4 linked regions of the Homo sapiens genome follow. The protein of the gene in region 1 purifies or fractionates together with the protein of each later gene. This does not show direct contact. Each region holds a gene or a part of one and is shown in the gene's direction. Other genes may lie near its edges.

The links. The genes of interacting proteins can lie anywhere in the genome.
Region 2: the proteins of SYT1 (region 1) and TRIM44 purify together in Homo sapiens (co-immunoprecipitation; one large-scale study listed by IntAct). This does not show direct contact.
Region 3: the proteins of SYT1 (region 1) and INPP5J purify together in Homo sapiens (co-immunoprecipitation; one large-scale study listed by IntAct). This does not show direct contact.
Region 4: the proteins of SYT1 (region 1) and CWC22 purify together in Homo sapiens (co-immunoprecipitation; 3 studies listed by BioGRID and IntAct, with this or other methods). This does not show direct contact.

What each region holds. Positions count from the first base shown.
Region 1 is NC_000012.12:79,294,718-79,298,319, forward strand, and holds part of SYT1 (synaptotagmin-1), read left to right. Parts: intron 1-1,351; coding exon 1,352-1,519; intron 1,520-3,602. UniProt on the Homo sapiens protein: Calcium sensor that participates in triggering neurotransmitter release at the synapse. May have a regulatory role in the membrane interactions during trafficking of synaptic vesicles at the active zone of the synapse.
Region 2 is NC_000011.10:35,812,723-35,815,690, forward strand, and holds part of TRIM44 (tripartite motif-containing protein 44), read left to right. Parts: 3' UTR 1-2,968. UniProt on the Homo sapiens protein: May play a role in the process of differentiation and maturation of neuronal cells. May regulate the activity of TRIM17. Is a negative regulator of PAX6 expression.
Region 3 is NC_000022.11:31,121,733-31,125,815, forward strand, and holds the start of INPP5J (phosphatidylinositol 4,5-bisphosphate 5-phosphatase A), read left to right. Parts: upstream 1-1,233; 5' UTR 1,234-1,282; coding exon 1,283-1,387; intron 1,388-2,163; exon of another isoform or gene 2,164-2,273; intron 2,274-2,409; exon of another isoform or gene 2,410-2,531; intron 2,532-3,112; coding exon 3,113-4,083. UniProt on the Homo sapiens protein: Inositol 5-phosphatase, which converts inositol 1,4,5-trisphosphate to inositol 1,4-bisphosphate.
Region 4 is NC_000002.12:179,997,248-180,000,849, reverse strand, and holds part of CWC22 (pre-mRNA-splicing factor CWC22 homolog), read left to right. Parts: intron 1-943; exon of another isoform or gene 944-1,119; intron 1,120-3,602. UniProt on the Homo sapiens protein: Required for pre-mRNA splicing as component of the spliceosome. As a component of the minor spliceosome, involved in the splicing of U12-type introns in pre-mRNAs. Promotes exon-junction complex (EJC) assembly.

The sequences.
Region 1 (3,602 bases):
ACATAAAGGTAAATACCAAATACCTACTTAGCAAACAAAGAGACAGACTGTTTCCTTTACTAATCATGTCTTTATAATCCGATGCCTATTTTAGCTGTTTTTTGACCATCTGTCTGTGTTTTGTTTACCTACAATCTAGCACTCTTATTGCCACTGTTGTATCATGATTCCACAAAAAAAAAAAAAGATATTGAAGCATTAAAATAGAAACAACATAATCATTCAGGTTATTGGGCCATGTTAAAAGTTGAGCCACCTAGCCAAAATGCACTTAAGTACACGGTGGGTCACAATTAAAATGGTTATGCATTTTTTTTAAGAGGGGGAATTGCTTTTTTACTCTACTAGCTAAAAAGGCATGAACTCAGATTTTTCAGGCTGAGATGTAAAAACCTATGGTGTTACTGCATTTACAAAATAGCATATACCTTGAATAACAGTAAGAGTCTGCTTTGTTACCTATATGGATCTAAATCAGTCTGTTGACACAAAATCTCTAATGGCAGAGTATCTATGATAGTCTACTCACACCTCTTTTTTTCTTCGCAAAAATATTAACCATACCATAATACCTTAATATTCATAATGAGGCTTAAGAATGCATCAGTAAGAAAACAGACTTAAAGAAATGTAATAGTTCTGTGGTGTTTGGAAAAAATAAAAAACACAGTTACTCACCATTAAAAAACCTCACCTCTAATCTCCCTTGCTTTCTATGAAGCTGAAATTACATTTCTTTTACTCCGTGTCCTATATTTAAACACAGAATCTCATAGATAATAATCATTCTACTGTAAGTTAAAATAAATGTAGTCTGCACACCAGTGAAGGTCAAATATAATAGAAACTAGAAGATCTTATTTTTTATCTCAAAATGCTACCCAATTTCTAAGAAATTTCTACTCAGCTAGCCTGAGGCTTTGATAAAGAATAAAAGTTTCCCACTTTGTAATTACAAACTTGTGATTGCTTAACAATGCATTTTCACTTACAAATCATGCTCTGGAAAGAAAAACAATGCACAAGAGCTTTTAGCAACTGGAAAGTTATTTGATTACAACTCTTTTGCAAAAATGAACTCCATATTTAACTGCAATCAGCAACCTTTTAAAAGCCTCTTTTGTGCTTAAAACCAGGCTTCCCAGAGCCTGCATCAGTCATAATTGGGTTTCTGAAGTCTACATAGCTCAGTTCATTTGCCTTCTGTGTTCAGATTCATAAGAGAATCAGAGTTTTATTAAAAATAAATAGGAAGAGGGAGAAATCCCAATATGCAGCATTGTGAACAAATCGATCTTTTCCAAAATGTCCACTGATATTTATGTATGCTGTATTCTGTCATTTATTTCAGCTGCTGGTAGGGATCATTCAGGCTGCCGAACTGCCCGCCTTGGACATGGGGGGCACATCTGATCCTTACGTGAAAGTGTTTCTGCTACCTGATAAGAAGAAGAAATTTGAGACAAAAGTCCACCGAAAAACCCTTAATCCTGTCTTCAATGAGCAATTTACTTTCAAGGTATTTGTTAACATTTATTTATAACCTTTCCTTTGTTGTTTTACTTAAAAGACTGATCTCATCCTGACACATACATAGACATGCACATGAATGCTTGTTCAGGCACTCACAATAATTCCAGTCAGAATATGCAAAATTCTTATCTTCACTACAGTCAACATTCGATATTGCCTTTCAGCGTGTTCAGAGTAGGATTCGGTTCAGTCATTTCAGAATGGAATGGACTAGAACATGACTAGGATGTCATAGTCACATCTAAAAAGTGAGATCCCTCCCTGAAATAAAGCCAAAGGAATGAAATCATTATTTTTCTGAATTTCAAAGTTTGTGAAAATAAGTACATCTGTTACAATCCCAGGATTAAGTAAGCTGTGTCCCAATGCTTAAATGGTACAAATAGACATGACTCTTGTAACAAAATTGTGTGTGTAGAGGGCAATTTGAGCACTTCAAAGTCATTCTTCTTAACTAATCAATAAAAGGAATATGAACATATTTTTTATTGCATTTCTAGCCTTCTTCCTTTACTCTAGGTTCTGCCCTGATGTTCTTCATCTTGTTGAGGCACCTCAGTTGACAAACAACAGAGAGATTCCAGCCATATAATATCTCATCAGGAAAACATGTCCTGCAGGTCTCCAGGATCTTCGTGGATCTTGGCTTGAAATCATTCATTAAAAACAATTCTTTTGGTGGATATCTTTAACGTGCGAAAAAAACTTTTTAATGCATTACTTAGAACAATATGTTTCTGAAAAATGAAATATCTGTGAATATGCCAGCAGGCTAATTCAAAATCACCACGTCCATCAGCCAGGCTTAGCATATGCCTTGTGTTGGCAAACATTCTGGGATGAAATAAATTGAAAATGAGGGCATGAGTCATTTTCTCAAACCTTGTTTTCAATTATGTAAAGGGGAAGTGTCTTTCTATTCACTCTAAAATTTCTGAGTTTTCAAGACAAAGGTCCCTCATGTATTGTCAGTAATCTTATTTAAAATCTGGTTTTTCTGTACCTAAGCAGTGAATTTAAAGTAGCAGTAAAGACATTCTGGAAATACTCAGTTCATGAAGAGTATCTGCTCATGAAGCTTAATCACTATAGTCAACATACTACGAAACGTAAAATGGAAATAAAATTTTAAAAATATTGTAATAGTAATCACAGTTGTTTTATTCATCTATTTATTAACCTTAACTTAGGTCAGCAGTTTCTGACCAAAACTTAGTAAGGAAATTCTTAAATTATATGAGCTAATGTATTGGGGCTTTGTTTTGTATTGCATTACCTACATTATTATTTCTTTAAAAAATGCTAATAATTTTATTAGTAATTTCTATAAAACCAAGTATAATTATTGAAATTTTTGAATTCTCTATACATTTTTATCAAGTTTCATTTTATTTCAGAAAGGTTGATCAAACTATACATAAATCCAAAGTATAATATATTCTGCTATATTAAAAAATACTTCAATTTTTCTAGAGAACTGGTTAGACATTGTAGATTACTCATCTTGAAATGCCAAGAGGCAATATGATACAGGAATGGAAGTATAAAAGACTTTAAAGAAGCCTGGCTTTACAATGGATTTAAATCACTTAACAGGAACTCAACATGCCCCAAATTAATTCATCTTCTTTTCCCCCAAAACAGTTATCTGAAGGAGCTACTAATCATTCAAACAATAAATATTTTTAAGTGCTTCTTCTGTGCTAGGTGTTTTACATATATTCATTCATCCCTAAAATAGCCCCATGAAGCAGCCATTATTACAGTATTATCACAATTTAATAGATGAATAAACTTATGTTTAATCACGTGCCCCAGGCCCTTTAGTTGGAAAGTCCAAATCTGGTACAAGGTCTGTCTGACCCCAAGTCCAGGTTTTTGACTGTTGCTCTTTGAGTACAATCACTAGAAAGTCTAGAGAGATTTTAGATATACAATAACATTTTCAAGGGTTTATCCTTACTCTAAAAAATTTTGTTTCTTTCTTTGAGAGTCAGCTCTTTGGAAGGGTTTATTTTCCATTCCTTCTAAAATGGAAAAAGGATGATGCTTACTTTTTAATCATATCA
Region 2 (2,968 bases), on another chromosome or scaffold:
ATGTACAGTATGGCCTTGGGGCAAAGGAGTTTGCCTTTTGCAAAGAAGGTCTTGCTTTGTATAGCCTGTAAAATGCAATGTACAGTGAGGGAAAGAAAGTCTAAGGGTAGCAGTCAAATCTTCTGGCCTGAAACTGTACTTTTGGAAGGGAGAACTGTTAGACTTGCTTTATCTTCTTTATTCCAAGGCCATAAATAAGAAAATCAACGAGAGGCAAAACCATGTCTTCTTTTGCTATAGCGTTAGAATCCTGAAAGTCAGCCAGCTCTGACACTGAGTCTGTGATTTAATTAAACATGTTGAAGGCTCTCCAACAGCTTGACGTCAGGCCAGCTTCATATTCTTGGAAAGGGACAACAGCAAAAGGAGCTTATCTGTTTTAAAGTTCACTTACTGAGTTCAGCTGTCACGGCCACAGCATACCATTTGCCTTATAAAAATGGCCCACAACCTTCACAATATTTTAGGATTCATGGCAACTCATTTACCTAGGGCTTAGCCACCTGATAGCTTTACCTATCCCTATTTCCTGAACACAAAATCTAAACCAGTGGTTTGACAATGAGTAACTGAGACAGAACTAGAAAAATCTAGAACCTCTGCTGAACCCATCAAAAGTGACTGAGAATTAAGAAGTAAGCAAACAAGGCTTCCAACCAATTGAAATAAATACCATGAAGCAAACGCATAAGACAAAGGCCATACATCTAGTCATCAGGCACCTCCTCAGAACCTATTTGCTCTTCCTTCACACATATTTCTAACTGTAAAGGAAAGAAACAGACTTTTAGAGGAAACAAGAAGGAAAAAGGAGGACAGCAATAGAGAAAATGGAAATTTTGAGTAGACTGCAAAGCTCCAAAGCCCTGATATATGGGTTATTTAGTGTCAAAAACAGTCTATACACATCTCAATCTTTAAGAGCCTCACTGTATCATGGGACAATATTCTATTTAAAATGATGACCCTGTGCACCATACATAAAAAAACTATGCTTAGAAGACAAAAATATGTATATCAAACATTTTAGAAATATTTACATCCCAATGGTTAAAAAAAAAAACTTTTAGGAATTAAAAGGAATAAACCTTTGACCATCCAGAATATTTAGCTAAATCAAACAGTGTATATCCCCCTAGCTGACTTTTATTGTTTCATGAGCCTCTGGTGTTCAGAGAGTTTTTTTCACAGCTTTGTAAGTGACTTTCATGCTACAGTGCTTTGCATATAATGGCATGAACAGTGGAGGTGCCAACTTTCCAATGTGATGAATAAAACTAATAACTAGAATACAGATCAAATTCTGTTACAACAAATACTGCTACCATAAAAGTCACTTAAGCATCCCTGTTAGTTCTAAGCCCCTGTCGATTGCCCATTTATTTTAGGCAATAGTCATTCAACAAAATTGGAGCATAATAAAAAGAAACTGGACCTCAGCGCAAGTTGAGTGTTACACAATTTAACCTGTAATAACAGGTTCTCACTTGTATTTCTCCAGCTCTTTGCTGTAAGAAGAATAAACGTTATGTAGATATAATACCAGCGTGACAGCTTGTGGTTGGTGGTTTCTAGAAGAAATAATTCAGAAGCAAAAGACACATGAAGTTATGTGGCAGTTCCTCACTAGGGAATTTGGTCTCCAGGGCCACTTTTGACCTTAATCCATGTTGGAGCCATCAATCAAAGAATTGCTTGCATCTAATAATGGTGTAATGCCAATACTAAGCCCTGGAACGAAGATAGGATTCATTTCTCATGGATTATTGAGCACTCTGGGGTAACCTGGCCCTGATCTGATGACGCTAAGATTTAAAAACCCAGATGCATGTGACTAGAACTATCTTTTCTCCCATGATGCACTGCTTTCAACACTGCATGACTGTAAAAACATGTGCCACGCTGATTATATATAGAGATGGTCTAAATCAGCTGCATCCCATTTGGTACCCAGGCAAGGATTTTTCCATACCTATCTTTTTGCTGGTGGTAATGATGAGTTTTGTCACTTGCTATAACATTCTCTGTCCGTCTTTTTTCTTTTATGTAAATACTTTTGTGACTTCATTGTAACCAGCATTTTGTAATACTCTTAACAGCAGAGGGGATTAAATCATGATTCACTTCTGAACAGTACAATCAGCAGTAGGAAAACGAGGAGGGAGGGAGAGGGAAATTGTCCACCACTTCCCAATGATAATGCCTGGCTCGGACCCCAGATTCACATCATACTTGAAGTTCATAAATTCTGGGCACTGCTCAGCTTGAGGAGGCAGGCATTGCTCCTTCATATTTCAGGGTGAGACAAATGCTCTGTTGAAGCCATGCCACTACAGGATACATTCACCTCTGCTTGCTTTCCTCCCTAAGCCAGAGTGTAGTTAAACATTTATATGTCCCAGGCCAGGAGATCAAATTAAGAGGAGGTTAGCTACTTTCCCTGGCTCTTAAAAACATTTGAGTCCAAGTATGGTTCTCTGGCTTGAGGGTGGCCATTTGTTGCCTCACTGTTTTTATTAGGACATCTGGAGATTAGAGGTGTTAATTGGAAGTAACTTTTCTATATTTGGTTTCTCTCCACACATTATGAGACCTTTTAGACCCAGTTGGATGGCTGTATCCTAGTATGAAATTCAGCTTCTAAGTAGGAAGAACTATGATAGAGGAACAAGATTGCTCTTTGACTTGGTGATAGTAGGGCAATAGGGAGTGTCAGTAGGGTAGTTTCAGGTGGGGAGGATGACAAACCACTGATAACAATAAAAATGGGTATTTCTCAACACTCAAGCCAATTTCCCATTTGATAACAAGTAGGTTCTGATCTATTTTCCCCAAATTAATATTTTCCCTGGAAGATTCTGACCTGTCTGATCAAATAAAGGCATTCCTCTGAGAGTATACCTAGCCCACTTGTGGCCAAATTATACTTGACTGTTATGTACTCAAAACAAGCTTTCCTGTTAATCTC
Region 3 (4,083 bases), on another chromosome or scaffold:
GGCCTGAGTCTCTGCCCCTGCAAATTCCAGCAGAGATGCTGGCCTGAGAATACAGACTAGACCTACTGACAGTCAAGCAGAGGTAGGAAGTGCCTTCAGGAGAGGAAAGTGAGGCATCTGCCTTCATGTAGGAGACTGCACAGGCCCATGCAGATGCTCCATGTTGGTTAACAGGGAGCTCTGCACACACAACTCTGAACACTTTCTGCCTAAAGTGGGTGGGATCACTCCTCTCTAAGCCATGAGAAACAGATCCCACAGCCATCCCAGCCCAATCTGACCCTCATCACCCATTCACTCTTCTAATTCATTTATTCATTCAACAAACACTCCCGTAGGCCTGTTGGGGACCATGTCCTGGGCTGGGTCCTGGCTGTAGCAATTCTCAGGCCTGTTTGTAACTCTCTTGTCAGTCTGTTACCCCACTGCTGGGCCCTTCTCCACCCAAGTTCCCTTCCCCCAGATAGCTCGAAGGGCTTGTGCTCATCCTAGGTCACTAAGTTTTCTCACTGAAACACAGGAGACCTTCTCAGTTCACCAGGTGACCTTGAGCAAGTTCCCCTCCCAAACCACACCCAGTGAATACTGGAGAGAAGAAAGCTGACAGAAGCCGGGCTGGGTTAGGCCTGGCTGTGGGGACATCTGAGGGCAGCTAGGTGTCTGCAGAAGAGGAGGGGCTGGTGCTGAGGCCTGAGATGGGAAAAGACTGCAGTGGCTGGAGCCTGAGTGTCTGGTTCTGGGTTGGGAAGAATAGAGCCTGGGACTGGCAGTAGGAGTGGAGAGGGTGGCACCAAGACCTGAAAATGGGGCAAGGGTGGGGGCCGGGGCAAGCTCTGAGCTGGCAGGGAGCCAGGAAGGTCACAGGATCAGGGCAAGAACTCAGTTGTCTCTGAGGCCCTGGAGAGGGTGCAGACCTCTGAACCACCTGTCCTACCTTAAGGCAGGTGTGTTAATGCCCCTCCCTGGAGCAAAGGGCTGACCAGGCCTACGGCAGAAAGGTGAAGGTAGACAGACAGCCTCCTTCCTGCTGCCAGTTGGGACCTGGGCCAGGCAGATGGGTACACTCTCCCCTCCCCACTCCATGGCTGTTCCAGCCTCAGCAGCCAGTTTGAAGGATTCCCAGGGGGTAGCCACCTTGCTTCGGCCTCTTCCAGGCTGGGAAGTGGGAGCCTGTGCCTTTAAATTCTCAGCAGGTTGAAATGGCTGATGACATCACTGGTTCCCGGGAGCGGTAGAGCTGGAGCCGGAGCCAAGGGAGTCCAGGCTGCCGGGGGCTGCAGACATGGAGGGCCAGAGCAGCAGGGGCAGCAGGAGGCCAGGGACCCGGGCTGGCCTGGGTTCCCTGCCCATGCCCCAGGGTGTTGCCCAAACTGGGGCACCCTCCAAGGTAAGACCCCTGAGACCCAGTGCCCCCCGCTTTCCTGATCCCTGGTTCCACACACCCCCCCCACATACACTGCAGGCTCCCTGGTGCTCCTGACTGAGGGGCTGGTACTTTCCTCTGCTCAGCGAGCAGGGGCTAGGTGAAGAGAGCACCCTGGGGGCTGAGGGGCAGTGACAGGATGCCCGGAGACAGATGAAGTTAGCCATCTCCAGGAGCCCTTGGGAGAGTCCTGGACTGGGTATCAGAGGACCCAGCTGTGCTCCACCTTTGCTGTGTGACCTTGGCCAAGTTGCTTTTCCTCTCTGAGCCAATGCAAAATGAGGGGGCTTGTCGCTGAAGACTAAAACTGTGACATCTGGGATGGCTAAGTTGTTAGTACTGGAGGCGGTGTGATAGTTGGGGGGAAGCCGGCACACAGTGTGACACTTGGAGCCAAGGAGGGTGCCTAAAATGCCACCTCAAAGAACTGAGTTTGAGAAGGGAGGTGGAGATGGAGTTTTAGGTACTCTGAACTGAGAAGGATACGGGACAGAAACAGAAGTGCGTCTCCAGAGGCAGGGCCTCCCTGCGCCCTGTTACCCTACCTAGGGCCATCCTGGGGCAAGTATAGACATTCTTCTGCCCTCCTTGGTGAAGGACACTTTATCCTGTCTTCTGGAGACAGGGGACATCAGAGAGAATAGATGGGGAAGGAGGATAGGTCTCTACAGGACTCCGTGACTCCCCACCCCTCCCACCTGCCGGACATAAATGGGATACCTGCTTGCCTGTCCTTTCAGGTAGGGGAGAAAGTGGAGGATGTAAGAGGGCACAACCTGGGCACAGAGAGATGTGACACCAGGATCAACTTAGAATCCTGGACTTGCTCTGAATGCTAGATTCACACTTGGTGAGGATGGACTATTCAACGGGGCTAGATGGAATTCTAGCAAATGTTGGGCTCATAAATGCAGACAATGGGAGATGAAGATTCCCCAGAATATAATGTGGCCAGGAACCCTAGACCCCATCCCTTCATTTTACAGACAGAGAAACTGAGGCGCTGGGCAGAGAGGTACTTGCCTAAGGTCACACAGAGCTGGGCTTTGAATCTACACAGCCAGTCTCAGCTCCCAGCTCTTGCTCCTGAGTGGAGCTCTGGGAATGGGTAAGAGAACAGAGAGGGCTGTAACCAAGGGATTTGGATGTTTAGGGGGCGGTGGGGAACTGAGGGTTTCTGGGCATTATGAAGGAAGGGAGAGGTATTTAACAAGCTGCACCTGTAGGTCTGTATCTTGACAATAGAAAAAGAAAAGAAACAGGCTGTCCCCAGTGTGCCCAGACCTGGGATGTCAGGTCAGTAGCCGTGGCTGGGGGAGCTTCAGGGACTGCAGTGGGAGGGTTGCCCAGGGAAGCTGCCCCGAATGGGCAGGGTGTGGGTGCCAGCCAGGAAGGCAAGGCAAGTCCTCAGGTTTAGGTTCACACTCTGCCTCATTTGAGTCAGGGTCTGAGTTTCCCCATCTGTGAAAGAGGTTTCAGACTTAAAGGAGGGGTTAGGGTTTTGTGTCCTATCTCCTCCAAGACAGAAGTTGACCTGCAGCAGAATAGATTGAAGTGAGATAGTAGGAAGAACTTCCTTGGAAAGATGTGCCTTTCTTAGCTAGATGAACTCTGCCAGGGTCTATATGGAAGTTGGGGCCCAATGCCCTGGTTAGGGTCACTCTGAATCTTTGACTTGTCCTCCACAAGGTGGACTCAAGTTTTCAGCTCCCAGCAAAGAAGAACGCAGCCCTAGGACCCTCGGAACCAAGGTTGGCTCTGGCACCTGTAGGGCCACGGGCAGCTATGTCAGCTTCCTCGGAAGGACCGAGGCTGGCTCTGGCATCTCCCCGACCAATCCTGGCTCCACTGTGTACCCCTGAAGGGCAGAAAACAGCTACTGCCCACCGCAGCTCCAGCCTGGCCCCAACATCTGTGGGCCAGCTGGTGATGTCTGCCTCAGCTGGACCAAAGCCTCCCCCAGCGACCACAGGCTCAGTTCTGGCTCCGACGTCCCTGGGGCTGGTGATGCCTGCCTCAGCAGGGCCAAGATCTCCCCCAGTCACCCTGGGGCCCAATCTGGCCCCAACCTCCAGAGACCAGAAGCAGGAGCCACCTGCCTCCGTGGGACCCAAGCCAACACTGGCAGCCTCTGGCCTGAGCCTGGCCCTGGCTTCTGAGGAGCAGCCCCCAGAACTCCCCTCCACCCCTTCCCCGGTGCCCAGTCCAGTTCTGTCTCCAACTCAGGAACAGGCCCTGGCTCCAGCATCCACGGCATCAGGCGCAGCCTCTGTGGGACAGACATCAGCTAGAAAGAGGGATGCCCCAGCCCCTAGACCTCTCCCTGCTTCTGAGGGGCATCTCCAGCCTCCAGCTCAGACATCTGGTCCTACAGGCTCCCCACCCTGCATCCAAACCTCCCCAGACCCTCGGCTCTCCCCCTCCTTCCGAGCCCGGCCTGAGGCCCTCCACAGCAGCCCTGAGGATCCTGTTTTGCCACGGCCACCCCAGACCTTGCCCTTGGATGTGGGCCAGGGTCCTTCAGAGCCTGGCACTCACTCCCCTGGACTTCTGTCCCCCACCTTCCGGCCTGGGGCCCCCTCAGGCCAGACTGTGCCCCCACCTCTGCCCAAGCCACCCCGATCACCCAGCCGTTCCCCAAGCCACTCCCCGAATCGCTC
Region 4 (3,602 bases), on another chromosome or scaffold:
GGGTTCATTAAAATGTCTTTTTTTTTTTTCACTCCTCTGTGTCTTACTGTCTTAAAGTGTCTGAAAATTTGGGCTGTCTACTCTCCACACAGAGTTGCAGACCAGTCAAATGCTTTTATATTACTTACTTCTTACAGAAAACAATGTCCAGAACTGTCTGCACAACTTCTAGCCCTGTACTTGAACCTGGCAATCTAGTCATTCAAATGGTTATGAGTCAGCACACCTGGCATATGCAATGACTATGAAGCAAAAGGGAGGACAGCTCTGCAACTCTTTATTTGTAATTTTTGGAGCCAGAAGTGTTTTGATTTCAGTATCTTGTAGATTTTAGAAAACTGCAGTGCCTATACTACATATTAAGTAATCCCCCCTTTTGGGGTCTGGAGTAACATCCTCTAGTCAAAACACATTAATATTTCTGCACTGTATCAAGTCACATTAAGTATCAAGTCAGTATATGCTAAGTTTTGCTCTCAAGTGAGTTGCCACATGCTTAAGAATAATCTTTGTATTTTCAGAGCTTTACAGATTTTAGAACTGCAGATAAAGGATTTTCAACCTGTACCTGGTGACTTTTCTAGAAAGAGACAGGAGTATTTTGACCCTTTTATTTTCTTGAAATTGTGATTCTATGCTGACATCAAATTATAATTTTTTGGCCTTATGAGGTATATCATGAGGCAATTTTTTCACTAATATGTAAATTAAGACAGGAAAAAATAGCAAGAAACGGTTTTTCTAAAACAAGTAAGTTTTCCTTCAGTACAGATATGGAAAGTACATAGCAATCTTGTTTTATATTGTTCAAGAGCGAAGCCAATCTGTTACTCCTATTTGTTCCCTGAAAAGGAAAATCCGTTCCTTGGGGGCTTGGCTGTTGTTGAGGTATTTTCTGAGAATTCCGTTCCGTTATGTCCCCTCCCATTATATTTTGGCATTTAGAATAATTTTAAGACAGTTTTTATTTTGTATTGTATAATATTACCACTTTCCCCATTGGGCAACTAAGGTTTTTGTTTTGGTTTTTGTTTTTGTTTTAAATATGAACTCTGTTAAAATGTTTGAAATTCACCAAACCTGTTTTTACTATTTAGAAGCCAGAGGAGCCAACTAAAGGTAACTCACTATTGATTCCCCTTTCCTTTAGCAATTTTATGACAATATGTTTCAGCAAGTTCCTCTAACTTGGACTGAGAACACCGAAGTGACAATGGTAGAAGTGTTTTGCTACGGAAATCATCTGGAAAGCAGTGCATTTCAGCCATTAGTTGAATATTTTCTCATTTTCTTAATTTTTGAGATGATTGCAGAATTCACAGTTTTCTGCTTAACAGTCTGACGTACTTATATATGTTATTAAATATTTTGCTTTCTAATGCTTGATGAAACTGAGAGAAAAACTATCTTTTTTTTAATAGTGCTCTCGTGAATACTATATCTCCTATTGGAAAATATCCTTTCTTCGGGAGAACAGGTGTGGTTTTGTTGAGTTGCTTTCTTGTGAGAAGGGGAAAGAAATTTAATAATTCACCATAAAATTCACATAGTGATGCTTAGAAGAGCAGAGAGTGCTATAAACTCTAGATAAATTGCTCTCATTTCAGGAATTTCCGATTAGTGTAAGTATTAGCATGCATATGTTGAACTCAGAATTTCCGAACAGGCATATTCTGCATAAATCTGGACAATGACAATACTTTATTCATTTTTTGTTAGAACTATGATAGCAGTCTACTTTACCATATTGTCATTTTCACACTTACGTTGTGAGACATGGAAATGTAACAGATTGTACTTTATTGCCAGAAATTATTTGCTGATGAAAGTTGAAAGGGGAAAGATGATATCGATCAGAAGAAAACTCACTAAATTGAAATATGTAAATTGAAATATGTAAATTTAAATAGAAATAAAATGCACAGAAATTGCTTGTTCTGAAATGTGTAAGTAGGTTGGGAAGAGGAACCGGGTGTAAGACTCCAGGAGAGTAGCAAAGGAAAACGCTAAATCTTGTGCAATGGGGTCAAGTGATTTTTTATTTTTATTTTTTGCTCATAGTATACCTAGTCACAGTGAATTCTAGGTATGCTAAATTAAATAAAAAGGAATCCTTAAAATTACTATGAATGTTTGAAAAGAAGTAGTGCTTCATTATATTAAATCACAGTCTTTGCTATCTGGAACTTTGAACGAATGGATCAGTTTAGGCTAGGATAATTTTCTGTATAGTAGAGTCTGTACTTGTTTACATTTTATAATTTACCATTTTGGCTTCAATTCGTTAGTGTTGGCATTTTCATTGGGACAAAATATATGGCTTTGGCATCAGATAAACCTGGCTTTGAAGTTTAGCTTCTGCCATTTACTAGGTGTAATTTACGTGGACAAATTGCTTGAATTCTCTGTACTTCAGTTGTTTCACTGAAAAACATGGCTAAAAAAAAAATCACCAGAACAGGGTAATTATGAGGATTGAGGAAGATTGTATAAGTGATTATAAATTGTGGCCATAATTTCTCAAGTTTAAAAAACACTTCTTACCTATGAATTATTAAGAATTAATACATTTGGATTTTCTGTTTCCCTTTCCAATTGATTTACAACTAAGTTCTTCACTATAAAGTAGGTAGGCTGTGGGGTCTCTATATTCTGCCTAAGTGGCTCATGGTTTGAGAACAAATTGAGAACCAAAGTTTCTTATGTAAAATTGAAAAGCTGAGGAGACTTGGGGAAAAGTTGGATTTTGGAGTTACCTTGGGAATACTTTCATAAAACAAGTATGCATGGGTTTCCCCTACACTTTCTGCCCATTTTCTGATTTTGTAAGTCAGAGGTGGGCCCCAATATATGTACAAGTAATTCTCCTGTCATGCATTTTTTCTTGATTCAAGTTGTGTTTAATATAGTGACATCAAACTAGTTTTACACTGTTAAGTAGTGATTTAAAACTGACCTGTAGGAAAAAAGTCCAACCTGTCACCTTGCTTGAGTGGCTTAGTGTTTTGTTTATCATTATAGATTTGTTTCTTATACCTAGAATGTAAGCTTCACATGAACAGATTTTGTTACGGTAGTTCATTGCTGCCTATCCAGTGCCTAGAAAGATGCTGGGCAAATAACAGAAGTGCTGTATTATTTGTTGGGGAACAAATGTACGTATAAATAACACTGGGTTTAAAGGTAATAAAGGATATGTTAGAAATGTTAAATGGTTGTGCTAGTAGAGGTAGGGAAAAAAATACCAATATCTTTGAGCAAAAGTAAGTCGAGTAAAGTTTTGAGTTTTATGGCTCTCTATACCTTTATAGCCATTAAAACAGGAGCTTTGGAAGGAGTCATGCAATTTGGTTTCAACAGAGTCATCTTGTTGAGGCAAATGGTCCTAAAATCCAGCTGAGATAAGGGTTATCCCTACAGGGCTCTCATCCTCAGGTGAGGGAGGGGGTAGCCTCTGTTTTAAATATTTTTTAAAATTCTATTTTAATTTGTAGCCTTTTAAGCTACATTTTGTACTTTTTTTTTTTAGTCATTACTCTAAGGAACAGTATATATATATCCTTAACTTTTCATGTGCTACTTAGAGTCCATATTGTATCACC